Linked DNA regions of Homo sapiens: region 2 is linked to region 1. The links come from fine-mapping of genetic effects on gene expression. A gene starts in region 1. The other region holds a variant in brackets. All regions are shown on one strand. Distances are from middle to middle.

What was found.
Region 2: its variant is fine-mapped to the expression of UBA1 in tibial nerve (GTEx, PIP above 0.99).

What each region holds. Positions count from the first base shown.
Region 1 is chrX:47,190,742-47,196,119 of GRCh38, forward strand. UBA1 (ubiquitin like modifier activating enzyme 1) reads left to right here and starts at 3,088. Exons shown (of 26, transcript NM_003334.4): 1 at 3,088-3,283. RefSeq lists enhancers at 143-192, 223-272, 253-793, 2,991-3,170 and silencers at 2,928-3,116, 3,211-3,360.
Region 2 is chrX:47,323,804-47,329,181 of GRCh38, forward strand. No RefSeq gene overlaps it. Among named protein-coding and RNA genes, the nearest start is that of ZNF157, 44 kb to the right of the region's middle. The variant T/C (reference allele first, on the strand shown) is at 2,554.

The sequences.
Region 1 (5,378 bases):
GGCACCAGCGACGCGGGAGCAGGGACTGACGCCCCTCTAGCAAAGCATCTGTGGTACATCCCAGACCCGGGGCTCTCCAAGGCCCCGCGCTTCCGAGCTCCGCGCAAACTCTGGCTTCTCTTGTACGACAGAGGTGGTTTGCTCTTCCGTTGCCCCGTGGCTTCAGCTCATCTTTGGCAGGAAGGCGAGGCTTCCGCCCGGCACAGGGGGTGAGCTGGAGCACCGTGCCCCCAAGCCTCTGGACAGCATTTGGAGGAGGGTGCTTCCCTAATCCCAACTTCGGGGAAACCCCTCATGGGCGTATTTGGAGCCTCCGGGCCCGGGGTGATATTTAGGGGGCGTCTGCTTTTGAGACCCTTAAGGGGTGCCGTTTGGGGACTTCGGGGTGGGATTTGGGAGTCTGTTTCGGGGAGCACCCCTCGGAGGCAGGGTTTGGGGGGCTTTGGGGAGATTCTTAGGGTCCGTGTATGGGCACCCTTGTCCGTGGAGCAGGATTTGGGTTATTCTTCAAGGGGAGAAGCAAAGCTTGAGGTTACTAAAGTCAAGGCGGGACTGGGGGAGGGCTTGTTTCAGGACGGGGTCCTGGTGACAGAACAATCGGGACCGACGTGGCATTGTGGAGGTGTCAGGCCTTTGTGACCTCTGGTTTTGTGATGAGGTCCTCCCCGCGCCTGGAGGCTCAGGACTGCGAGACTGGACACGTCGGGGGCCCAGATGTTTCTAGGGAGAGGAGCCTCCCAGCTCAGGCTAGGGAAGGGACACCGGAGCCCAGCTCTTCCTGAGCTGACGAGGCGCCACCCGGCCTTTATTCATTATTCATAATAAGGTGGGGCTGTGGTAGGCGGCAGTTTTTTTGCCTCTTTCGCACCTGGTCCGCTGAAGGTTCTCGGCTTGTGAATTATTCACGAGGGGCGGATCAGCGTGCCGAAGGGACGTGCTGAAGGGGCGTTCTGAAGTCTGCCGCGCAAACGAGTTCATTGATGATTCGCAAAAGTTAAGTAGCACCCTGAGTTTTCAGTGGCTTTTCTAGGGGTTCCGTGCTTAATTCATGAGGAGCGTGGCTTTTGCAGCTTTGTCTGCGTGATCCGCGGTTAGCTTTCCCTTGCAGGTACCAGAGTTAAAACCTGGCGTCTAGCAAAGGGATGAGGCCTCCTACATTGTTCATTTCTTATGGCCTGGTAATCCCAGATAATCAGCCGGCTCTGGATTCAAATCCCATCGATCCTTTCCAGTTGTGTGATCTTTGGCAAATCGTTTTGTAAGCCTGAATAATGGGTATGAGGATAACGATAAGATTAGCTTACACTCGTTTAGCTACTTAGCGCATTTAATCTTCACGACAATCCTAGGAGGTAGGTCATTATTACCCCCACTTTATAGATAAGGAAACTGGGACACAGGAAGGCTAAGTAATTTGCCTAAGGTCACACAATCAGTGAGTGGCTGGGCCGGGATTCAAATTGGGGTCTAGTTCCGCAATCTGTAGTCTTAACCAGATGCCATAATGTCTCCCCTCCCCATTCCCCTGCGCCGCCATTTGATAGTACTACTACTACTAATATAACACTTAGCATGTGCCAGGCACTGGTCTAAGCCCTTTCTACTTATTTCTTCATTTAAACTCCATCGCAAGGTAAGTTGCTGTTATTCCTATTTTATGGATGGGGAAGCAGTGGCCCAAGTTGGGGGTTTCTCTAGTGGCTGAGTATTCATAACTAATTTTATATTAATGTAAATATATATTTACATATCTTAACATATTACTTTTATATTAATATATAATATTTTAAAAATTTAACAGTGCCTTGTGCCAGCAATGTTCTAAGGCTCATCCCATAATTTATATTCTCTGATTTTCTTTTGTTTGAGACGGAGTTTCTCTCTTGTCGCCCAAGCTGGAGTGCAATGGCGCGATCTCGGCTGACTGCAACCTCTGCTTCCCGAGTTCAAGCGATTCTCCTGCCTCAGCCTCCCCAGTAGCTGGGATTACAGGCGCCCGCCAACATGCCCAGCTAATTTTTGTATTTTTAGTAGAGACAGGGTTTCACCATCTTGGCCAGGCTGGTCTCCAATTCCTGACCTCAGGTGATCCACCCGCCTCGGCCTCCTAAAGTGCTGGGATTACAGGCGTCATCTGATTTTCATAATAACACATTACTATCCTCATTTTACAGTTGTGGAAACTGAGGCACCTGCCAAAGACATGTAGTGAGTTTGGGTTTGATTGGACCAAGGCAGCCCTTGTTCCTGAGGCGGGGAGAATGGAGGGAGGCGTGGAGAGGGGAGGTGGGGGCAGGGAGTACACGTCCCCTGGGTTTTCTGGTGGCACTGCAGTGACATCTTTCATTATTCATGAACAGGAAGGCGTGCTCACTTTGCCTTGGCTATAGCATCGTAATCCCTATTTGCTGGGCAGGGCAGTCTTGGGTGTTTCTTCGCCTTATGCATAATTCATAAATTGGGTGGAACCTTTCTTGACCTCTCTGAGTTTCCAGGTTGAGCTACTGCAGCAGCATAATTCATTATTCAGGACCTGGGAGAGTGTGTTTTCCCTGCAGCAGCCCCATTTCCCTGCTTACAGTGTATTAGATGCAGCAATAGGCGGGCGTGCCCCTTTTATTCCAACCCACTGGGCCTCATGCATTATTCATGAGTAAGTTGTGGCCTGGGTCTCCTTGGCTTCCGGGCCCCTGCAAGATCATCATTATTCATGAATGGGGGTGTGTGGCTTCCATGTTTTAACATCTGCTTTCTGGTTGCTGGTTGTTAGTCTACCAACCACTCAACTTCATGCATAACTTATAATCAGGAAGCATGGCCTTAACGGTTTTTCTTCGCTTCCTTGACAGCCTGGCTGCAACAATTCATTCATTAGTCGCATTCCATGAGGCGTGGCCTCTGTTTTACCTGTTTTCGTTGTTACTGCCACAATGTCCACCAGGTGGTGCTGTTCCACTTCTAACCGAATGAATCGCAACCGAGTAGGGAACTTTATGCATGATTCATAAGTAGGCGCGGCCCGCTTGCATCCGGGTTTCTGGGGGTGGGGCCCAAGGTTTTGTTCCGGCCCCAGGCTCAGCGTCCGCCATCTTGTGTCGGCGGCTCGGCTGTAAGGAGGTGGCAGGGACAACCACAACCACAACGGCCGGGGGAGGAGAAGGCGGCAGCGGCGATTCTAGGCGGCCCAGGCGGCGGGGAGGAGGAGAAGGAGGAGGGTGGCGGCCGGGCTTGGCTTCGGCTCCTTGAGGAGTTGGCGGCGGCGCGACCCGGGGAACCGGCATTGGTAAAAAAACGTCCTTTCACTGCGCCTCGCCCTGGGCAGGGGTTTCGGGGAGGCACTGGAGGGCCCTGAGCCACGCTGCTGTCGGGGCGGGCCGCGGTGACTCGGGAGCCAGGAATCAGCGGAGTAGGGAGGGGGAGCGGATCCTGGGGCGGGGCCGACTTTCCCCGGCCAGGACCACTCCGGCTCCCTCTGGTTGCAAAATCTGACCTTGGAGTCGGACCCCCAGGATGTGCTTTTAGAGACTCACGCCCAACATCTCTAGTCTGGGACCTGACTCCGTCCCGAACCTTGTATCTCAGATCAGAACTCTTCCCCAGTCTCCAATAGAGATTTACGTGGATCAGCATTGCTGATCAGAGCTCCTCACCATTGAATGCCGTTAAAGACCTGCCCCAGAATCTCCTTTGAGACACTTCCTAGCTTCTCAGTATTTGTCCTCAAGGCTTCCAGGACGGGCTAGATCTCGAAGGGGTCCATAGGCCCTTTATCTCTGTAAGAGAGTCCTCTTTAGCATTTTCCTTCAGACCCCCATCCCACACACATGCTAGCCGCGCTCAGAGCTTCCAGGGGTACTAGACCCTGTGAAAGGCCATTTGGGCCTGGCCTTTGTGTCGGGGGCCCCTCTTCGCCACACGTCAGGTCTCCTAACCCCACCCTGGCCCTAGCATCTTCCATCAGAGACTCTGCCCAGTATTTCTACTCAGAGACCCCTCTTACCATCTGCCTTGAGAGACTCTTCAATTCCTAGACTCTGTCCTTTGACACTTTCTCTACTTTTATGGAATTTCTCGCTTTTTATACTTCCAGTATTCAGAGACTACTGAGAGGCCTCAGCATCTTCCCCATCAGGCACCTTGAACCCCCAGAGCCTTCCAGTGCACCAGATACCAGGGAGGAACTGTTTGGATACATAATCCTCCATCAAAGAGCCCCTGCGAGCATCTGCTCTTGCAGATCCCGTTGGCTTCTAGCCCCTTCCATCAGAGACTCGCCTCCCCAACCCCACCCTAGACCCAGCCTCTGCCTTCAAAAACCAACCTGGGTTCTAGCTGCTTTTTTCACAGATCCCTTATCCTCACATCAGGCCTCAGAATCTGCCCTCAGATCGTTTCAAGGTCCCTAACGTCTGCAGTCAGGGGTTTTCAGCTTCTGCTTTCAGCCTCCTTGGACCCCAGGATCATTGTCAGATGTCCCTTCCCCCCACAGGCCTTCTTGTTTTCTTTTTCTTTTTCTTTTTTCCGAGACAGAATTGTTTCACTATGTCGTCCAGGCTGGAGTGCAGTGGCGCCATCTCAGCTCACTGCAACCTCCACCTCCTGGGTTCAAGCGATTCTCCTGCCTCAGCCTCCCGAGTAGCTGGGATTACAGGCATGCACCACCACGCCTGGCTAATTTTTTGTATTTTTAGTAGAGATGGGGTTTCACCATATTGCCCAGGCTGGTCTCGAACTCCTGACCTCAGGTGATCCACCTGCCTCGGCCTCCCAAAGTGCTGGGATTGCAGGCGTGAGCCACCGCGCCTGGCCATGGCCCTCTTGTTTTCTACTGCAGTAGAAAACCCTCTTCTCAGCATCTACCTTCAGCGCCTCCATGGGGTCCTACATAATTGGTCAGAGAAACCCAACCCCATTTGGGGACCTAGCCAGTGTTTGCTTATTAACCTTTTTAAGGCCTGCACTATCTGGGCCCAGCTTCCCGTTTCCACACCCTCAGAGCAGCTGTGATACCTAGCATGTCCTGTCAGAGATTGACACAGGGCCTTTGTGTTCCATTAGAAACCTCTCCCAGCCCCTCACCATCCACCCTCACAGCCTCCTGGGACTCTGTAGTAGGAATGTCAGATACACCTCTCCTCTTGCATGTCCCTATCTATTATTTTTGGTTAAAGATTTCTCTCTGCTACCAGCATCTGTCTCCAGAGTCCTCCAGAGCCTCAACATCCTCCTGATGGAGGCTGCCTCTCCCCCCAGACCCCAACATCTTCCTGCTGCCTCCTCAGACTCTAGAATCCCCCACCCATTCCCTTTGCAGCTTCCATGGGGCCCAGCAACTGTCCTCCTACCTCCTTGCAGCCTTGGGGGCCTCCACTGCAATT
Region 2 (5,378 bases), 130 kb after region 1:
ACTCCATCTCAAAATAAATAAATAAATAAATACAACCCAACCGGGGGATGGGAGAGGGAGAGCATTAGGAGATATACCTAATGTAAATGACAAGTTAATGGGTGCAGCACACCAACATGGCACATGTATACATATGTAACAAACCTGCACATTGTGTACATGTACCCTAGAAGTTAAAGTACATTAAAAATATATATATATATATATATATATATATATATATATAAAATACAACCCAACCAAAAACAGTTCACATATGTGTTGGTTGTGTGCCCTTGAGAAATTTCCTTAGCTTCTCTGTTTGTCAACACCATGGAGATAATAACAGTATGGGGTTTTTGTAAAATATAGTGTGTATGTAAAGTCCTGGTCCTTGCTTTGTAGTAAATGTTCAATACATGTCAGCAACTTATCAGAAAAAGGCATGGAAGGACATTGCCAATCGAGAAAAATGATAAGACAAGTCTCAATCATTTTAGGTTTATTTGCCAAAGCTAAGGAAGTGCGCCCATGACACAGCCTCAGGAAGTCCTAATGACATGTGCCCAAGGTGATTGGGACACAGCTTGGTTTTATACATTTTAGGGAGACATGAGACATCAGTCAATATATGTAAGAAGTACACTAGTTTCATGCAGAAAGACAGGGACAACTCTTGAAGCTGGGAGGGGGCTTCCAGGTCACAGGCAGGTGAGAGAGAAATGGTTGCATTCTTTTGGTTTCTGATAAGCCTTTCCAAAGGAGGCAATCAGAATATGCATTAATTTCAGTGAGCAGAGGGATGACTTCGAATAGAATGAGACAGATTTGCCCTGAGCAGTTACCAGCTTGAAGGGGCTGAAGATATTTTCCTTTCACAACATAAACCAGGATGCAGAAGCTGGTTACCAGGTGGAAGGAGGAAAGAAAACAAAATAACATTAAAATAGATAGCTGTGAAAAATCATTATAATAGCATAAATATTATGATCCACTTTGGTAGAATTACGTGTGTGTGTGTAGTGCTAACTGTACAGTGGTAGGATTTCAAGTCATTAATAATTTTTTCTTTTTTTCTTTTTCTTTTTCTTTCTTTTTTTTTTTTTTTTTTTAATATGGAGTCTTGCTCTGTCACCCAGGCTGGAATGCAGTGGCATAATCTCAGCTCACTGCATGCAACCTCTGCCTCCCAGGTTCAAGTGATTCTCCTGCCTTAGCCTCCCAAGTAGCTGGGATTATGGGTGCATGCCACCACACCCGGCTAATTTTGTGTTTTTAGTAGAGATGGAGATTCGCCATGTTGGTCAGGCTGGTCTCGAACTCCTGACCTCCAGTGATCCACCTGACTCAGCCTCCCAAAGTGCTGGGATTACAGGCGTGAACCATTGCACTTGGCCTTTTTATTTTTATTTTTCTTTCTTTCTTGTTTTTTTTTTTTTTTGAGATAGAGTCTCGCTCTGTCACCCAGGCTGGAGTGCAATAGTGCGATTTCGGCTCACTGTAACCTCTGCCTCCCAGGTTCAAGTGATTCTCCTGCCTTAGCCTCCCAAGTAGCCGGGATTACAGGCGTCCGCCGCCATGCCCAGCTAATTTTTTGTATTTTTAATAGGGATGGCGTTATGCCATGATGGCCAGGCTGGTCTCAGAGTCCTGACCTCAGGTGATCTGCCTGCCTTGGCCTTCCAAAGTGCTGGAATCACAAGCGTGAGACACCGCGTCCAGCCCCAAACCATTTGAAAGTTAGCTGCACACAGTAATACCTTTCAATTCTAAATAATTCTAAATAATTCCCTAATATTCTAAATACTTCCCTAATATTGCTTAATATCCAGTCCATATTTAATTTTCCCCAGTTGTCCTATACATCTTTTTTTTTTTTTTTTTTTTTTTTTTGAGACGAAGTCTCACTTTGTTGCCCAAGCTGGAGTGCAGTGGCGAGATCTCGGCTGACTGCAACCTTCACCTCTCGGGTTCAAGCGGTTCTCCTGCCTCAGCCTCCCGAGTAGCTGGGACTACAGACATGTGCCACCATGCCTGGCAAATTTTTGTATGTTTAGTAGAGACAGGGTTTCACTATGTTGACCAGGCTGGTCTTGAACTCCTGACCTTGTGATCCGCCCCCCTCGGTCTCCCAAAGTGCTGGGATTACAGGCATGAGCCACTGCGCCCGGCTCCCATACATCTTTTATAACTTTTTTAAAACACAAGACTAAGTCCAGGCTCATTTATTCCATACGGTTGCACCTCTTTAGTCTGTTAAACTAAAACAGTGTGTTCATTTTATTTTTATTAATTAATTATTTGTTTTTTCAGACGGAGCCTCCCTTTTGTCATCCAGGTTGGAGTGCAGTGGCACGATATGGCTCAATGCAACCTCTGCCTCCTGGGCTCAAGCGATTCTCTTGCCTCAGCCTCCCAAACAGCTGGGACTATAGGCACCCACCACCATGCCCGGCTAATTTTTGTATTTTTAGTAGAGAGAGGGTTTCGCCATGTTGGCCAGGTTGGTCTCGAACTCCTGACCTCAGGAGATCCACCTGCCTTGGCCTCCCAAAGTGCTGGGATTATAGGCAG[T/C]GTGTTCATTTTAAATATGCCGACCCCCAGCACTTAAAGACGCCTGTAATCCCAGCATTTTAGGAGGCTAAGGCAGGAGAATCACTTGAGTTCAGGAGTTTGAGATCAGCCTGGACAGCATAGTGAGACCCCCTTCAATCTCTACAAAAATAAAAATAAAAATATTAGGCAGGCATGGTGGCAGTGTTTTGTTTTGTTTTGTTTTGTTTTGTTTTTGAGACAAGGTTTCACTCTGTCACCCAGGCTTGAGTGCAGCAATGCAATCTCAGCTCTCTGTAGCCTTGGCCTCCCAGACTCAGATGATCCTCCCATCTCAGCCTCCTGGCAGATCACTTGAGACTGGGAGTTCAAGACCAGCCTGGGCAACATAGCAACACCACCTCTTGATTATAACATTATTACTTTTTGAAAAATGCCACCAGTTCATGTATTTAGACAACTTTATCACTATTGCTCAGGGGAAAAGCCTGTCTTGGTCTAGGAGAATTCCACAGAACATACTTTTATTTGGTAAAGTGGGAAATTCTAGGATCTGGTAGTGCATTAATCTAGTTACCAAAATGATACCACTCATACCACGCTTGGATTAGTAACTTTTCAAATAATTTGGAAACAAACAAAAAAACCGTTTAACATTAAAATTGAAAATAATTCCAACTTTGTTTCACTTGAAGAAGGCGGGTCCCAATCCTGTTGTGTTGCCAGTGTCCACGTTCCAGCTTTTTGCTAATCAACAAAGCCATCCTTTCTGTCTCACAAACTGTTCCCTGGACGTTTCACAATCTTTGTTGCACGCATTAGGGCTTTGTGGGTGATGATAAAAAGGGGATGTTTTGTTTCGTTTTATCATTAGGACCTTTAAAAGAGTAGCAAGTTATTCTGCTGGACTTCCCAAAATGTAGCTGGGAAGAACAATATAGCCGATCAAAAGCTGAAAATTACTTTCAAGGACTCAGGAAGGGAACGTGTGGTACGTGCTGCATGGTATCTGTTAAAATAGCCACTGTGCTGAAATCCCTTTGTGGGGAAAGGTAGAGATTTTTACAAATTCAAGACAAAATGTTACTTCTCTGGGTATGACCACAGTAACAAGGACACAGAAAAATAGGTCAGAACCAGAGGAAAGATGGGGTTATCTGTCCTGAGAATCAAAGCCTCCTATGGATCCTCACTCTGAGAGTGCCTGGGAATAAGAAGCTGAGTTTCATTGACAGCAGCAGGAAGTGCAGAGTGAGAAAAGCAGGAAGAAAGTTCTAGTAGCCACAGAAGTTAGTTGCTTTGACCACGGGCATGATACCAGAATTTCAGAAGTGACAGAAAAAGCAGGCAGACAGATGGCAGAGATGTTTGCTGGAACCCTCAAGCCCTAAGGAAGAGTCTTGATTATGTTATCATCACTTCTGAACACTTTAGTGACCATAGCTTTCAGTCTGTGAGGAAAAGCCCTGCTGGCCTTTGAGACTGGTGTGAGGGACTGTCCTGCTCTGGGAAATGTGGGAGGGCTAAATCGGAAAAGCCCAGGCAGGGTTTCTCTGGGCCACATTGGAAGAAGAATTGTTTTGGGCCACACGTAAAATGCACTAATACTAATGATAGCTGATGAGCTAAAAAACAAAACAAAAAAAACAAAAAAAAACCACAAAACATCTCATAATGTTTTATTTTAAGAAAGTGTTGGGCCACATTCAAAGCCGTTCTGGGTCACATACGACCTGCAGGCTGAGGGTTGCACAAGCTTGGCCTAGGGTTTCTTGGTGAGATGAAAGCTGTGATGGGGCTATTGAAGCCTAAAGCATCATTTTTCACTGTTGTTTTGGAGGGTAACCAATTAGCATTTTCTGCGTGGTTGTTTGGGCATCACAAGAAAAGGGCTTCTGAGAAAGCCCCGGCTCCTGGGACAACAGCACAGGTCACACCTTCAACCTCCAGCCCCTGCAATGCGCAAGGAGAGAACAATCATGCTTCCTGTGGCCATATTGGCACGATTGTTCCAACACCTTTATCACGGGCCATGGGTCACGGAGGGTCTCGGGCCCTGTCTGGCTCCTTCTTAGAATGCACATTTTCACAGCTCATGGGGCAGGTGCTGGTGAAACTGGCCCCTTCCCCAGGGAGCACTGATGCATTTCTAATACCAGGATGAAAACCAGTGCCAGGCCATGGAGACAAGCGATTTCTCAAATGCTGATGTCTTGCAGATGTAGTGGCCTGAATCTAGTTTTTTTTTTTTTTGAGACTGAGTTTCGCTCTGGAGTGCAGTGGCTGGAGTGCAGTGGCTCGATCTTGGCTCACTGCAACCTCTGCCTCCCAGGTTCAAGCAATTCTCTTGCCTCAGCCACCCGAGTAGCTGGAACTACAGGCATGTGCCACTACACCCAGCTAATTTTTGTATTTTTAGTAGAGACGGGGTTTCACCATGTTGGTTAGTCAGGAGGGTCTCAATCTCTTGACCTCCTGATCCGCCCGCCTCAGCCTCCCAAAGTGCTGGGATTACAGGCTGAGGCACTGCGCCGGCCTTTTTTTTTTTTTTTTTTAAGAGACATGGTCTGGCTATGTTGCCCAGGCTGGGGCACAGTGGTGTGACCTTGGCTCACTGCAGCCTTGACCTCCTGGGCTCAGGCAATAATTCTCCCACCTCAGCCTCCAGAGTAGCTGGGACTACAGGCACATGTCACCATGGCTGGCTAATTTTTTAATTTTTTGTAGAGACAGGGTCTCACTATGTTACCCAGGCTGGTCTTGAACTCCCCGCCTCAAGGGATTCTCCCATCTAGGCCTCCCAAATCATTAGGATTACAGTTGTAAGCCACAACACCCAGTCATGG